4 linked regions of the Homo sapiens genome follow. The protein of the gene in region 4 purifies or fractionates together with the protein of the main gene of each other region. This does not show direct contact. Each region holds a gene or a part of one and is shown on either strand. Other genes may lie near its edges.

What was found.
Region 1: the proteins of TYRO3 (region 4) and DSC3 purify together in Homo sapiens (affinity purification with mass spectrometry; one large-scale study listed by BioGRID and IntAct). This does not show direct contact.
Region 2: the proteins of TYRO3 (region 4) and TM9SF3 purify together in Homo sapiens (affinity purification with mass spectrometry; one large-scale study listed by BioGRID and IntAct). This does not show direct contact.
Region 3: the proteins of TYRO3 (region 4) and SUPV3L1 purify together in Homo sapiens (affinity purification with mass spectrometry; one large-scale study listed by BioGRID and IntAct). This does not show direct contact.

Annotation. Positions count from the first base shown.
Region 1 is NC_000018.10:31,039,943-31,044,242, reverse strand, and holds the start of DSC3 (desmocollin-3 isoform Dsc3a preproprotein), read left to right. Parts: upstream 1-1,500; 5' UTR 1,501-1,582; coding exon 1,583-1,651; exon of another isoform or gene 1,652-1,801; intron 1,802-2,408; exon of another isoform or gene 2,409-2,710; intron 2,711-4,300. UniProt on the Homo sapiens protein: A component of desmosome cell-cell junctions which are required for positive regulation of cellular adhesion. Required for cell-cell adhesion in the epidermis, as a result required for the maintenance of the dermal cohesion and the dermal barrier function.
Region 2 is NC_000010.11:96,580,513-96,584,012, reverse strand, and holds part of TM9SF3 (transmembrane 9 superfamily member 3 precursor), read left to right. Parts: intron 1-3,500.
Region 3 is NC_000010.11:69,200,734-69,204,233, forward strand, and holds part of SUPV3L1 (ATP-dependent RNA helicase SUPV3L1, mitochondrial), read left to right. Parts: intron 1-1,705; coding exon 1,706-1,786; intron 1,787-2,133; coding exon 2,134-2,310; intron 2,311-3,500. UniProt on the Homo sapiens protein: Major helicase player in mitochondrial RNA metabolism. Component of the mitochondrial degradosome (mtEXO) complex, that degrades 3' overhang double-stranded RNA with a 3'-to-5' directionality in an ATP-dependent manner.
Region 4 is NC_000015.10:41,564,976-41,570,050, forward strand, and holds part of TYRO3 (tyrosine-protein kinase receptor TYRO3 isoform 1 precursor), read left to right. Parts: intron 1-50; coding exon 51-166; intron 167-2,384; coding exon 2,385-2,562; intron 2,563-3,241; coding exon 3,242-3,387; intron 3,388-3,902; coding exon 3,903-4,047; intron 4,048-5,051; coding exon 5,052-5,075. UniProt on the Homo sapiens protein: Receptor tyrosine kinase that transduces signals from the extracellular matrix into the cytoplasm by binding to several ligands including TULP1 or GAS6. Regulates many physiological processes including cell survival, migration and differentiation.

The DNA.
Region 1 (4,300 bases), on a different chromosome or scaffold from region 4:
ACTTTGAGAAGCTTTCTCTGAGGTCATGCTGGAGGCACGTGGAGGATGGGAGGTGAAAACCCTGGAGTGGAGAGAAGTTTGGAGAACTTTCTCTGAGACTGGAAGAGCTCTTACATACAGAGACCTCCACTGACGGGTGCCTGGGAGATTCACACTGGGAAGCTCAACTTAGAGTGTCTGAGCCCTTAAAGCTGAGCCTCATGAGTTTCAGGGAAGCCCCAGACTTCAGGGAATACATGGCTTAGACGACGAGGAGTCTATTAGACTTGAGCCAGAGTGAGATGAATGAAGGTCATAACACCCTTTCATGATTAATTGGCTGTCTGAAATTCCCGACCTTGCAACTTTTGAATGGACTTCGAGGAGTAGCATCTCATGTCTGAGAGGGATTTCCTCCTGAATCCAGTAGATGGGAACTCGGGGAACTTAAAATTCAGTTTAGGGAGAAATAAGAGGATGTCCCCCTGGTGTTACAAACGACATCTCTATTAAAAAGTGTAGCCTACTGGGCTAGGAATGATTGTCTTTCGTCCCTTTCTGACTTTGAATTATTTCCGACAGGAACTAGATTTTCTGCATTTCCTTTCTTCCATGCCCTCACACAAAGCTTGGCCGACTTCGGGCCCTGATAAATAGTCGTTGCATGATGTAGAATCTGTAAGCCTCGTTTTAGAAGGTTTTGTGTGGTAGATATTCCTTTGACCACCTGAAAAATTTCATTTTGGTACCAGTAAGTAGTAAACCAATAATTCACATCTAAGAACAAAGTCGTTTTTAGAAGGTTCATATGAGTCCCCCAAACTGACAGTTAATAGAGCGCTGAGTGTAATCACTCATATTTTGGGTGCGTAAAAATGGTTAGATTAGAATTTCTTAAATTTGGTTTTAATTTCTGACATGCCAAAAACTGTTTATCATGCCATCTGGGATAAATTCCTTCTGTCGTGTATTTTGTCATGTTAGTCAAATCCGGAGAGAATACAGTACATGTATTTTGCTTTAATCTGAAAACATTGGCAGAATTTGTTCAGACGTCGAAGGGGAGATCCGCTGATCCAATGACAAGGGTGTTCCTGGCATCCAGCAGAGCCCGTGTCGAGGCAGGGATCCCTGCGGGCGGATTGGGGTTCTGCATTGAGATGCACCGCGCAGCGCCGGCGATGGGGCCGCCCTGGGACGATCTGGGCTGCCAGGGCCTCTCTGCGGGCCGGGCGGGGCGGCAGCGCCGCGGGGCAGCCGAGGGGCGTGGGAGAACTGGCAGAGGGTGCGCCAGAGACCGCTTTCCCGAGCGCGAACGCCCGGGTGGCTGCTGGGGAGCAGAGGGGCAGGCTCGGGCAGCTCCTCAGCCGCGCCGGCGATGATAAAACTTGAGAAATAACAAGGAGTGGCCTCTCCGCGTCCTCTGGGTCCAATCCGGTTTCAGAAGTGAAGTTGCTCCCGGGCAGGCAAGCCTGAGAGAGGCCAAATACACTTAAAAACAAGCAGCGGCGAGAAAAGCACCTCCCGCGCCCTGCACCTCGGCAGGTCTCGCTCTCGGCACCCTCCCGGCGCCCGCGTTCTCCTGGCCCTGCCCGGCATCCCGATGGCCGCCGCTGGGCCCCGGCGCTCCGTGCGCGGAGCCGTCTGCCTGCATCTGCTGCTGACCCTCGTGGTAAGCCAGATCTCGCCGGATAGGGCTGGGGTGGGGACGGGGGTGGATCCGCCCTGGACGCTGCACGGAGCTGGGGACAAAGCGGGCCGAAACGTGACAACCGCGGCTCAGATCAATGCTGCGGGTCTGGTAGCAGCCCCAAGTTCGGGCCTGCAGGAGTGAGGAGAGAAAACGTGTGTTTGCGGGTCGACTCTGGACTGAGCTTTTTGTTTTGAGACAAGGTGTTCGATTGTTGGAATTCTGAGTCGCGCTCAGGCTTCGCTGCGCTCTGGCGGGCGCCGTCGCGGGTTGGGCAGGGGGTTGGGATTCACGCTTCTCCCCAGGTGGTGGAGCTGGTGGTGATGGTGGTTGGAGGGCGCCTTTGGGTGGAGAGGATCCCTGAGAGCTCAAAGCACAGACTTGAAAAGGGATTTAGGGGCTGCCCCCTCCCCAGCTCTGGGTCGCAGTTGACCCGGATTGGTTCGTTAGTGAGTGGAGCCGGGGCTGTGTCCCTGGGTCCCTTGGTGGGGCTGCCCCTGAGAAGTGGGTTTCTCGGTATCTCCCCTAAAGGGTATTCAGAAGCTCACCCAAGCGGTCCACCCCCGCCAGCCACCCAGCTGGGGGCGGGATGTGCCGGGGGCGCGAAAGTGTGGGAAGACCGGGCCAGAATGGGGGTTGGGGTCGTGTTGTGTTTTGGGGATGCTGCCGAGGTGTGGAGGCGGGTAGAGGGTGACAGTGGTGGGGGATGATGGATGCGGTGGGGTTGCGTCGTACTTACTCCGGCTCCGGGGAGGACTGCGCGGCCGGAGCACAGCCTGGGGTTTCGAGTCTACGGAAACCTGCCGCCCAGGACGAAATCCTCTAGGAGAGGAAGTTAGAGACGATGCTCTGAGAACACGGGAGACTTGAAGTGTTCGGAACTCTGGCGGCGCGGTTACACGCGAAGCTTCAGGCTTCAACAGAGTTTCATTCCGCACGCCCAGAAAGGAGCCGCGGACCCGCGACTTACCCGCATCCATGGATGCGCATGGGGTCCGATGGGAGCGAGGTCTATACCCGCGTCGGCAGTGAGCCGAGTCTGGTCTCGCGGATTCTTACTGCTTCCTGGCCCTCCACCCTGGCAAGTGGGAGTGGGTCCAAGGGTTGTCCTCCCTTAAGGTCAGCGAGGTATGAATATGGGATTGGTAGTTATGATCTACGATATGTTTATGGAGAAGGAATTGGACAAATAAGCGCATCCATTTGCCCGGGAACTGTTCCAACAAAGTATCTGAGCTTATGAAGTGACTACAAATGGAAACGGCTTAGAGAATGTGTTCTTTTGTAATATATTTAAAAGCATTTTCAGCTTTTCAGTTTACAAGCATGCATTTGGGGTTTTGTGTTTCCTTTGCGAAGGGATTGAGGATGGGGAACGAAACTACGGGTGCTGCTCTCAGAATTTCTCGCATTCGCTCGAGGCTCCCAGAGGCCATGGAAGACCAGGAGCTTTCCCGGCAAGGCATGGGTGGGGGTGTCGAGCTGTGGCAAGGAAGAAGGTGCGCGTAAATCTAAACGGAGGAAGCTTCAGCTTTGATCTAGCACATACTCGTTTAAGATTTTTTTTTTTTAAAATAATTCCGTTGAGTTTAGGTTAAATGCTGTATCTGGAGACTTAAATACCGGAAAGTGCACAGAAAATGACTATTTCATCTGCAATTGTCAGTTTACAAACACTTGCAATTTCGGACCGGATGGGTAAATTAACACTTCTCTTGACCATCTCATGTATGTATTTCCTTCCTTTTGACTCATACGACTCTCAACTTTTCAATATAATATTAATGACACGGCATTTTAGAAACATTTTTCATTTTATAGAGACTTTAATGGATATCTTTAAACCATTACTTATCTTTAAAACATTGTTTGTTCTAAGGAGACAGCTTTTCAAAGCAAGTCTTTAACAAGAATCTGAGACTTGTTAAATTTTAGTCTTCCCAGTAAGCAGCCCAACAGGTTGAGGGAATTTTCCCATTCTGCATTTTTCCTGTATCTCCTTCCCACCGTGTGCCCCACCACACTCTGAAGTGTAAATACAGTTTCTAATAATCACACGCACAAAGAAAAAAATGACAGGGAGATACTAAAAAAAGAAGTATATCAGAGCATCTCACTCACTATTGTAAGTTTTTGATTGCCTCAGAAAGTGTTTTTTCCTCTTAATGTAACCAGAATTGTTAGGGATGGTGGAAACTAATTTACATGAGATCAGTTGTCTTCTGCCTGTTACAAATAATAAGATTCTTTTAAAAATATGTGTTAATACTGTTATCAAATCCACTTTAAGATTATGTTATCTAGTATACATTATAAATGGCACATACTTGGACACGGCTAATCCATCATTTTGTTAAAAGGGCTCCTCTTCTAAAGGAACTAAAATAGTTGAAACGTTTGCAATAACTCCCCTCAAATCTGTACTTTTCCTCTTTGGAGTATATGAACTCTGCCTGCAACCTATGTTGATAAATAGGCATCCAAATTTTTATATTTGTTAGGGTTAATGTGAATAATGTGAGTCCTTACCAGAAAAACTTGTGATGTTTTTGCTCTTGGTAATATTTGATATATTCATCATTTTAAATTAAAAGGGAGTATAGTAATTTCTAAAGGCTTTTACATTTGTGA
Region 2 (3,500 bases), on a different chromosome or scaffold from region 4:
ACCCAGGCTGGAGTACAGTGGCACAATGTCCACTCACTGCAATCTCTGCCTCCTGGGTTCAAGCAATTCTCCTGCCTCAGCCTCCCTAGTAGCTGTGATTACAGGTGCTTGCCACCATGCCTGGCTAATTTGTGTATTTTTAGTAGAGACGAGGTTTCACCATGTTGGCCAGGCTGGTCTTGAACTCCTGACCTCAGGTGATCTGCCTGCCTCGGCCTCCCAAAGTGCTGGGATTACAGGTGTGAGCCACCATGCCCTGCTGGCTATGCACTGTTCTAAGTATTTTACACTTATTAACTCATCTATTAATAACCTACGAGGTGAGTAATATGCCCATTTTGTAGATGAGGAAAGTGAATCTAGAGAGGTGAGGTCACCTGCAGATAACACACATCTGGTAGGGGTAGAGGTGGGATTTGAACTTAGGCATTCTGAGTTGATAGTCTTCTGCACTGTGAGCCGCCATATGCTCTATTCCCCTTTATCCTAAAAATAAGACAGTAAAGCACTAGGTATTGAGTGGTTCTCTATATTGATTTTTAAGTGCTTAAATGCTTAAATGCTCGAATGAGTGTGGCTCCATGATGAGTTGTTTCTGAGATCTTTGGGTTAGCATTAAGGAGCAATAGTGTTGACTTCATGGGCACGTGCCCTGAATAGTCACAAAAGACTGTGTGAGAGCTTGTTTTCATGCTATCCTGTAACATCTTGAAGTTTTAAATTTTTTAACAAGGGGCTCTGTATTTTTCTGTACTGGGTCGCACAAATTATATAGCTTGTCCTAAGAAGGGACAATACCTTATGCCCATTCCCCAAAGCCCCTGATATCTCTTACTGTACCTACTGAATTAGGATTCAGGTGGCCATCTGACCCATATGGTATTTTTTTTTCTTTTTCTTTCTTTCTTTCTTTTTTTTCTTTTTTTTTTTTTGAGACTATGTTTCACTCTTGTTGCCCAGGCTGGAGTGCAATGGCGTGATCTCGGCTCACTGCAACTTCCGCCTCCCGGGTTCAAACGATTCTCCTGTCTCAGCCTCCTGAGTAGCTGGGATTACAGGCATGTGCTACCGTGCCTGACTAATTTTGTATTTTTTTAGTTGAGACAGGGTTTCTCCATGTTGGTCAGCTGGTCTTGAACTCCTGATATCAGGTGATCCGCCTGCCTCGGCCTCCCAAAGTGCTGGGATTATAGGTGTGAGCCACTGCGCCTGACCCTATGGTATATATGTATATATTTTATGTGCTTATTTGTCCAAAGTTATTTTAATATTCTCTGAAGAGTGTTGAAAAGGAAATGTGCTATTGACTGTATGTACATATCTAGAATATGTAAAAATGTGTTCCTTTTAATTTTTAAAAGTTGAATCATATGCATTACAGACATGTTGTTTGAAATGAAAATTAACACTTTTGTGGAAGACAGGCTTTTAATAACTGATTGAAGGGACATAGGCTTCTTTATAGTCAGTGAAAGGTATGTTTATGCTTATTTGGTTTTCTAAAACTCAAAGCACTTGGAAGCATCTAGAGTTAGATTACTATGTCTCCTAAGATTCCGAAGGACTCCATTAAAAACAATTTCAGATTGAGAATCATAGAATTTTAGAACTAGAAAGACTCAATAATTTAATCCAAAACTCTTCATTTTCCTAATGGCCTGTACAGGTTCAGAGACTTGCTCAAGGCCACAGAAAGAATCAGAGCTTCCTGATCGCCAGTCTTGTCTTTTCTACCTGTCTTTTACATGTAATTCCATAGTTATAATATGTAAAGATGTTAGCAGCAAAAACCCAGTACTTAGGGGCACAGGAATCTTAGAGCATTTTATAGTTTGCACTGTAGCCTTGAATTTTTATGGGTTCTGTTTCCTTAACAAGATCACAAAGTCAGATTTTTTTTTTTTTGGTCTGTTATATACGCAAGCACTGTGCTTGGCACAAATAGTACTTGATGAGTGCTTGTTGAATGACTTGAATAATTAGGGAGCTACTAGTGACAAGGATATGCAGTGTGGAAGCACAATGAACAAACTGAGGCCGTTATTCCTTTAAGATGCATAGTCTTCTGTTTTGATTTGGGGGTCCTACCTAGGCTAAAATTCCCTATTTCTCTGTGGCCCAGTGTACTTCTGGTAATCTTGAGACTTCTAATGTTGGACAGACTGGATGCCTACTAGAATCGTTTACTCAGCCTCTGCCTCATAAATAATTTGTATTATATCACGGAGTGATTTCAGAAATGTTTTGTTTGATTTACTTTGGCAAATGGAAACCTTTTGTCTTTGTCTCTGTTGGGAGTATAGGAACTCTTAAAACTTACTGAAAACTTATAAAGAGTATAAGCTGTTTACTATAAGTGAATTTGTGAGTTATCTAATGTAGATTGTTAAATGCCGTAATTCGTTGTCCTATTTTCAGCTCTACTCAATGATAGACTGAAAGTTTATTTAGGTACAAAGCTATTTTTGAGAGAGAGTAGTTATCTCAAGAGACTATTCAAAATTACATTTCTAATTTATTTGTATTAGAATTCTGATGTGTGTTTTAATAATTTAAAGGTTTTGAAATTATGATTTCTGGAACATTATTTTGAAGTAAACACATATATTTTTCCCCCTTTGTATGAAAATGAAGGATAGCATTTGGGTGCTTGTTCTGAACCCTCAGTCCTTTGCTCATCTATGTAAATTGTGATTTCTTATTCAGATTTCACATGACCACGTCAGCATATTATCTTCTAAAGCGTTTCTCCTGATAATAATTAATTCATTACCTCTGTCAAGGAGGAAAACTTTGGTACCCCCCCAACACATAAACAGTATTTAAATAAGAGGGGCCCAACATTGGTGACTTCTTGAGAATAAAGGTCATTCCTTTTGAGATTAGAGTGCAAATAGCTTCTTAGAAGGTTTTTTTTCTTTCAGGCAGATTAAAGGCTCACATAGAAAAGTTATTCAGTGTTCAGGACTGTCTTTAGTTGCTTTGTACACCTGGCACTGTTTTCATATTTCCTTGATTTAGTTTTTTGCTCTTTAATGAATGAAGCTGACTAGGGATTAGCAAAAATACTAACCTTTTAAACTTGATGCTGATTGATTTGGACAAATTACTTAACATCTCTGTTCTTTAGTTTTGTTTTTGTTTTTAGTCTGTAAAATGGGGAAGTAATAGGACCTATTTTATAGAATTTTGAGATGATTATTTAAGTGTTCATATAAAGACCTTAGAACTATACCTAGCTCATAGTATGTATTTATTGTTAGCTACTGATGTTATTATTACAAAAATGGTGAGATCATGTCATGTTAGGGTTTGGTGAGTTAAGGCTTTACTTGAGGATTTGAAAAAGGAGGATTTGAGCATTTCGGAAGGATTATTAGAGTTTGGCTAAGTGGAGAAAAGGAGGGCATTCTAAATTTGGTGGAATGACGAAAGAAGATGAAGTGGGGCCAGGCGCAGTGGCTCACGCCTGTAATCCCAGCACTTTGGGAGGCCGAGGC
Region 3 (3,500 bases), on a different chromosome or scaffold from region 4:
GAGCCTGATTTGCCTTTACTTCCTTCCGGAATCTAGCAGCGGGAAGGAACAGGGAGAAAAGCAGTTTCTTCAGCTGAGCACACAGAGCTACATTAGTGGACTGAAAAATGACCAGAAGCCTGAATATAGACGAAACCTTGTATTGCTTGGGGCAAAAACAGCCCTAAGCAATACAACTTCATCCAGTGAGGAGAAGGTTAAATTTTGGTTAATATTAGTTAATGAGTTAGAATTGTACATATTTGAAACAAACTTTCTAGTAATAGTCAAAATTTAAAGTTCCCTGGAAAATTCACTTACATGGCTTATCTCATTTGTGACACTAGATGAAGGGGAGTATAGACATGAGATCATACAGGGAGAAGCATGCAGGGAGAGAAGCTTCCAGGGGAAGGCTGTGCTGGAATCATTTCTGTAACTTCTCAGCAGTACAGTTAGGTTCGTGGTTGGCTCCTGTGACCTCCCTGCTTCCCTCCTGGGCACCTCATGTCTTGGACTCTTCTTCCCTCCCTTATGACTAATTTCTCTTGCCTCTTTTCTTCTGTCTTTTTCATTCACTTTCTCTCTCTGTTTCATACTTCATTCCTTATACTTTCCTGTGGCCATGTCCTAACGGTGTAATGTGTAGCTAAAGAGAACTCACTTCCAGTTTAAAAATGTTCTCATGTCTTTCTAGATGTATATATCTATGTTAGTTTTATTGCCTTGGTTAAAGTGACTGGGTTTTTCTTATTCATTTTAATTCAATGAGGAGAAATGAGACATGGAAAATGGTTTTACCCTGGAAAACAGGTTTTTCTTTCCTTTTTTTTTTTTTTTGAGATAGTGTTTCACTCTGTTACTCAGGCTTCAGTGCTGTGGCATGATCACGGCTCACGGTAACCCCAATCTCCTGAGCTCAGGAGAGCCTTGCACCTCAGCCTCTTGAGCAGCTGGGACTTCAGGTGCTCACCACCATGCTTGGCTGATTTTTTAAAAATTTTTTGTAGAGATGGGAATCTCCTTTTGTTGCCCAGGCTGATCTTGAACTACTGTCCTCAAGTAATCCTCCCACCTTGGCCTCCCAAAGTGTTGGGATTACAGGCATGAGCCACTGCACCTGGCCGTAAAATCTTTTTTTTTTTTTTAGACGGAGTCTTGCTCTGTCGCCAGGCTGGAGTGCAGTGGCGCGATCTCGGCTCACTGCAAGCTCTGCCTGCTGGGTTCAAGTGATTCTCATGCCTCAGCCTCCCGAGTAGCTGGGATTACAGGCACGCAGCACCACACCCAGCTAATTTTTGCATTTTTAGTAGAGACGGGGTTTCACCATGTTGGGCAGGATGGTCTCAATCTCCTGACCTCGTGATCCGCCCACCTTGGCCTCCCAAAGTGCTGGGATTACAGGCATGAGCCACCACACCCAGCCCATAAAATCATTTTTTGTACACTGCCAGATCATCATAGGTTTTAGAAATATAACTAAAATGTAAGCAAAAGACTAATTTCTCAGTGGCCATAATCTGTCATTTTTACTAAATCATCAACTTTTCTAATTGGTAATAAATGGTAAAATGATATTTTTTCTCTTTTACTCAAATTCTTGGCATTTACTTCATATGGTGAGAGCTTAGCCTGAATGGGACTTTATCGTGCAATAACTTAAGAAAATTTGTCCTTTTTGAAAAAAAAAAAATCAGCTTATGATTGTTTTTTCTTTTACTAAAAGGCAGCTGGTCTTCATCCAACTGCTGAGCAGATTGAAATGTTTGCCTACCATCTCCCTGATGCAACACTGTCCAATCTCATTGTAAGTGGAAACTCCCTTTCACATCTCCCCTAAAAATGTTGATATGTCAGGTGATTACTGGTTAACCTCATGAGCATGAATGGATAGTCTGCCTTTGAGAAGTTGCTATTTATAAAATTTATTTTACAAGTGAAAATTTTTTCTCAAAATCTTTTGGGACTTTAGCCCTGAGGAATTTCCTCTCAGTATTTCAGGTGGGGAAGGATATGAGGGAGTGATTAAAGCAAGCCTTTATGGAAGTTTGTTCTGGATTAAAGAGATTGTCTTTTATAGACTTGAGTATGTTATTCATTGTTCATTTTAATTCACTTAGGCAGTCCAGTAATTTCTGTCTTTTTTTCCCCAAGGATATTTTTGTAGACTTTTCACAAGTTGATGGGCAGTATTTTGTCTGCAATATGGATGATTTTAAATTTTCTGCAGAGTTGATCCAGCATATTCCACTAAGTCTGCGAGTGAGGTATGTTTTCTGCACAGCTCCTATCAACAAGAAGCAGCCTTTTGTGTGTTCTTCACTGTTACAGGTAAGCCTTTATCTTTAAGCTATTTTGAGTTCCTTCTGGTTGATGCAGGTTCCCCAAACAGTACTTTGTTATTCAAAATAAAATAATTACAAGAGTATTCAGTAATATGAGAGACTTTGTAAAAACTTAAATAGGGGTTAATAGTAGCAACAGTGTTCAGTTTTCTTAAGTGTAAAGCACTGAGCCAGGGGTTACTGTCTTGTATGAGCACCATGCCAGGGTTCTAGCCTCTTTTAACTCATTTGGGTAGGGATGCAAATCTCTGACTTCTGAGAAGCACAGGATTCCTGGGGGCCAGGAAGGACAGTGGACTATGGAGAACCATAAATCTCTACCAAGGCCGGGTGCAGTGGCTCACGCCTGTAATCCCAGCACTTTGGGAGGCCGAGGCGGGTGGATCACTTGAGGTCAGGAATTCGAGACCAGCCTGGCCAAGCTGGTGAAACCCTGTCTCTACTAAAAATACAAAAATTATCCGGGCATGGTGGTGGGCACCTGTAATCCCAGCTACTCGGGAGGCTGAGGCAGGAGAATCACTTAAACCAAGGAGGCAGAGGTTGCAGTGAGCCAAGATCGCACCATTGCACTCCAGCCTGGGTGACAGAGCGAGACTCTGTCTCAAAAAAAAAAAAAACAAAACTCTACCAAGGTTTATCATAACAATACTTTTATTTAATTTAATTTTATTTATTTTATATTTGAGGCAGGGTCTTGCTCTGTTGCCCAGGCTGGAGTGCAATGGTGCAATCACAGCTCACTGCAACCTCAACCTCCCTGGCTCAAGTGATCCTGCCACCTCAGCCTCCCAAGTAGCTGGGACTACAGGCATGTGCCACCATGCCCAGCTAATTTTTGCATTTTTTGTAGAGACAGATCTCTCTATGTTACCCAGGCTGGTCTCGAGCTCCTGGAGGCAAGTGATCATCCCACCTCAGCCTCCCAAAGTGCTGGGATTACAGGCATGAGCCACCTAGTCCAGCCTAATATTTTAATTATTAAAAATGTTTTTGAAAGGATCCAAATGTCCAACAAGAGGGAAAAGGTTAACTACATTATGGCATATCCACTTGATTGGATATTAGGAAGACATTGCAATGATAATTATGATTATAATGAAGAAATCTACATAAGTGGTTACACTATAACAGTAAGTGAGGGAAGCGGTTCAGAACTGTATGTACCTTATAAAC
Region 4 (5,075 bases):
GCCTCTGCTCATATCCCTACTGGGCACTGATTCTGAGTCCCCGTCCACAGCACTGCCTGCAGCCCCCTTCAACATCACCGTGACAAAGCTTTCCAGCAGCAACGCTAGTGTGGCCTGGATGCCAGGTGCTGATGGCCGAGCTCTGCTACAGTCCTGTACAGTTCAGGTAGGCTCTCCGGGCCGGGCCATGCTCGTTCTGGCTGCATGGCCAGCACTTTGTTGACAGGGATATCACACTCACTAGCCAGCTCCTGGGGGCTTGGTCTGCAGCTCTTTTCAGGCTCTGCTCCTTAGCAGGAAGAACACAGGCCACTGTCTCTTATCATGGGGTGCTCTGGCAACTAAGTGACTTTGCAGATTGGCTCAAACTCATGCATTCATAAGGTTGGAAAGCAGATCACTAGAACAGATTTGGGGTACCTGGAAGGTTTTTCTTTCTTTCTTTTTTTTTTTGAGACAGGGTCTCACTGTTGGCCAGGCTGGAGTGCAGTGGTGCCATCTCGGCTCACTGCAACCTCCACCTCCTGGGTTCAAGTGATTCTCCTGCCTCAGCCTCCCCAGCAGCTAGGATTAGGATTACAGTCATGCACCACCACGCCCAGCTAACTTTTTTTTTTTTTTTTTGTATTTTTAGTAGAGACTAGTAGTTCACCATATTAGCCAGCCTGATCTCAAACTCCTGACTTCAAGTGATCTACCTGCCTCAGCCTCCCAAAGTGCTGGTATTACAGGCATGAACCAGCACACCCAGACGAGTTTTTCTTACTTAGGTGAAAGCTCAAACCTTTGCTGATACTCACCCTATCATGCTCCACCTTACCCCCCAACCCCCACTCAAGCCAAAGAGAACAAGATGACCAGAAGGGGCCCTAAGCCTTGGAGAGTGGAAAAACTGTGTAAGGTGATACTAAAAACAAGAGGCAATGCAGGCTTGCTCATTTTCATCCGTTTACTCAAAGGCCATTTAATGAGTACCTTTCAAAACTGTTCTGGGCAGTTCCCCTGGGCAGGAGGGGCCCCTGCTCTGGGCTCCACCATTTAGAGAACCCTACTGAGGTTGGGCACAGTGGCTTATGCCTGTAATCCCAGCACTTTGGGAGGTGGAGACGGGAGGATTGCTTGAGCCTGGGGGTTCAAGACCAGCCTGGGCAACATGGCAAAACCCTTTCTCTACAAAAAATACAAAAATTATCCAGGCACAGTGGCATGCGCCTGTACTTCTAACTATTCAGGAGGCTAGAGTGGGAGGATGACTTGAGCCTGAGAAGTCAAGCCTGCGGTGAGCCGAGATCATGCCACTGCACTCCAGCCTGAGTGAGTGACAGGGCAAGATCCTGTCTCTATTAAAAAAAAAAAAAAAAAAAAAAAAAAAAAGAGGATCCTACTCTGGCCCTCCTTTGGCCACACCCCTTTCCCCGGGGCAAAGAGCCTACAGGGCCAAGAGGATATGCCCATCCAGATGGCAAGGACCCCCTCACTGCCACACTATACTATAGCTATTCAGGATCTCTTGCCCTAATGGTTCTGAGTCTGCTTCTGGGGTCTGTGTGGGCCTTTTCCCTGTTCCATCTTCCCAAGGATGGACCGCAGTGTGATATGACCACCTCTAAGCCCAAGGGGCAGCCATTCGTGAGGGGGATGGGAATGGAGCTTGGATATGCAGTCAGCATTGTCCACGCCTGTGCACATGAGGCCCCTCATGGTGCAGACCTTGGCTTCAGGCCAGCTCTTCCAGTGCCTCCTCATTCTGACTCGGGACTCCAGGGATTTGGAGAGTTACAAATGCAAACCTGATCTCCCAGGTTGTTTTGAAGGTTTATTGGTCAAAATATTAAGAGAGAAACTATTTAATAGTTTGTTAGCTGATTTATAATGTTTAAATATTTAGACATATAGTACGTGGATCTCTTTGTACTCTTGCCCTGGGCCCCCAAAATGTAAGATGAAGGGCTGGTTCATAGTGCCCTAGGCTCCCAGTTTTCTCTGAGCTTCAGAAGCTCTAGAACTTTGGAGTGGCATGTAAACAGGCACAGTAAGTGGTAAGTATACCCTAAGAGTTTCGTACCAAGTACAAAAGGACAAGAGTTTTCTGGAGTGGTTGAGAAAGGCTTTCACCAAGAAAGTGATATTTGCACTGAGTCTTAAAGGATGAGTAGGCCTTTGCTAGGAAGAGCAGGTCATTCCAAGTGAAAGGAACAGCATTTGCAAAGGTATGAAGATGTGGAACCCTGTGTATTATTGGGGTGGGGGCAGATGGGAGGGCGTGGGTTGCAAGTGTTTGCTGATAGAGGAAGCATTCATTCAAGCACCCATAACTATACCCATCCCATCTTCCATCTCTCACAGGCTCTCCCCTACATCATTAGTTTTCTGCTTTTCTGTAGGTGACACAGGCCCCAGGAGGCTGGGAAGTCCTGGCTGTTGTGGTCCCTGTGCCCCCCTTTACCTGCCTGCTCCGGGACCTGGTGCCTGCCACCAACTACAGCCTCAGGGTGCGCTGTGCCAATGCCTTGGGGCCCTCTCCCTATGCTGACTGGGTGCCCTTTCAGACCAAGGGTCTAGGTAAGGGATGCATAGAGCAGAGCGGGTGGGCAGGGCTGGAGCCGGGAAGGGGGCCGTGTTGGCTGGAGTTCTGAATGGTGCTGGTAGAGATGGAGGTTCAGGCATCATTCGGCAAACATTTACTGCATATAACTACATACCACCTTGTAAGTAGTTCTTGTAGGTGGAACAGATAAGCAAACTGGAAAAGATCAGATAATGTGGTTGATAAAGAGTGTCCCCAGGTGGTTAAGGAAACCCCCCCTAAAAAGGTCTGAAGGATAAAGATCTGAAGGATCTGGGATCTGAACGATAAAGAAGAAGCCATGTAAATATCTGGGGGAAAATCACTGCCGGAAGAAGGCACAGCAAGTGCAAAGACCCTATGACAGGAACTTGCTTGGCAATTGCAAAGAGGCTGGCATAGCTGTGAGAGGGGAGTGGTAAGGGGTGAGGCAGAAAGGCAGTAACCATGGTGATGAAGAGCAACACTGCCGAGCTGGGGTGCTGCCTGTCCTGCCCATTGCTTACCCCTCCCCCAGCACAGTGGGTGAGAGCAGTCAGAGCTGGGAGGTGAACCCTTCCCCAGTTTGTGCCTCTCAGAGCTGTTTAGTTCTTGGGAGTTGATTCCAAAGGTCTGCATGGAATTATGATGGTGGGAAGGGCAGGGGTCTTAGCAATCTTCTCTCTTTGGCTGCAGCCCCAGCCAGCGCTCCCCAAAACCTCCATGCCATCCGCACAGATTCAGGCCTCATCTTGGAGTGGGAAGAAGTGATCCCCGAGGCCCCTTTGGAAGGCCCCCTGGGACCCTACAAACTGTCCTGGGTTCAAGACAATGGAACCCAGGTAAGACAGAACCCTCCCCTCTCTCCACTCTCCTGGAGTATAAGCCTTCAGGGTTCTAAGGCCTTTAAGAATTTCAAAATGATTGTCTTTGGTGGGCCTGGGTCTCCCGCAGCCCCAGGGAATCCTTTCCTCCTCACCCTCCTCTGCAAGCTCCACTTCTCAAAGGATTATGTCTCCTGTTAGGGTTGCATCCTGTGTGCACTTTGTAAATAAAGCAGGAAGCACATTCCTGCTTGAGCTGGGGGAGGGCACAGATAAGGCTTTGTCCCCAGCTCAGTTCGCTCCCATCCCCCACCTGTGCATTCCGGGACTGAGCCTTGTTTGTGTTCTGGAGAGGCCCCTGCAGCCGGGAACAGGAATGTGATTACTCCCAGAAGGTTGTGTTCCTGCAGCCCCTGAACCCACAGTGCCCCTATACTCCCATGTTCCCAGCTGGACCTTTTTCTGTCCTCAGGCCCCAGCTGGAGGCCTTCTCCCCAGGCTCACTATGGGGTGGGGGCTTTTCCTGGCTGCAGGATGAGCTGACAGTGGAGGGGACCAGGGCCAATTTGACAGGCTGGGATCCCCAAAAGGACCTGATCGTACGTGTGTGCGTCTCCAATGCAGTTGGCTGTGGACCCTGGAGTCAGCCACTGGTGGTCTCTTCTCATGACCGTGCAGGTGAGGCTTGTAGGTGGAGAGGGGCAGAGGCTCAGGGGATCAAGGTTTTCAAGGGCAACCTAGACTGATGGGAGGAGCCTAGTAGCATCTCCCCTCCTAGTAGACCCACAGACAGAGTGAAGAAGTTGAGGCCAGGGCTGTTTAAACTATCTTGGCTGGGCATGGTGGCTCATGCCTGTAATCCCAACATTTTGGGAGGTTGAGGGATCGCTTGAGGCCGGCAGTTTGAGACCAGCTCTGGCAACATAGCAAGACTCTGTCTCTACAAAAAAATTAAAAAAAAAAAAAAAAAACAATTAGCCTGGTGTAGTGACATATGCCTGTTAAGCCCAGCTGCTCCAGAGGCTGAGGCAGGAGGATTGCTTGAGCCCAGGTGTTTGAGGCTGCAGTGAGCTATGATTGCACCACTGCACTCCAGCCTGGGCAACAGAGTGAGTCTGTTGTCTCTAAAGAAACAAACAAATAAGGCCAGGAGTGGTGGTTCACACCTATAATCCCACAACTTTGGGAGGCTGAGGTGGAAGGATTGCTTGAGTCTAGGAGTTTGAGACCACCTTGGGCAGCAAAGTGAGACTTTACCAAAAAAATTTAAAAATTAGTCAGGTGTGATGTTGCACACCTGTAGTCCCAGCTACTTGGGAGGCTGAAGTGGAAGGATTGCTTGAGCCCAGGAGGTTGAGGCTGCAGTGAGCTGCAACTGTGCCCCTGCACTCTGGCCTGGGCAACAGAACAAGACTGTGTCTCAAACAAACTATATCTCATTCTCCTCTCTCTGCCCCAGAACTGGCATAGAAATCCATGGTCACCCTCTAGGTCACAACAGCCAGGGCCTGTCTCTGACCAGGTAGGAAGGACTCTTAGGCATTCCTCTGGAGCCCCTTTCCCTCAGGACCCTTATTGACCTAGAGGAGCCCCTTGAACCAGCTGGATGGCCATCCTGGGAAAGTTCTGAAGGGACCTCATGGTGTCATCCTAGCTCATGCCACTGCACCTCCCTCCCACAGGCCAGCAGGGCCCTCCTCACAGCC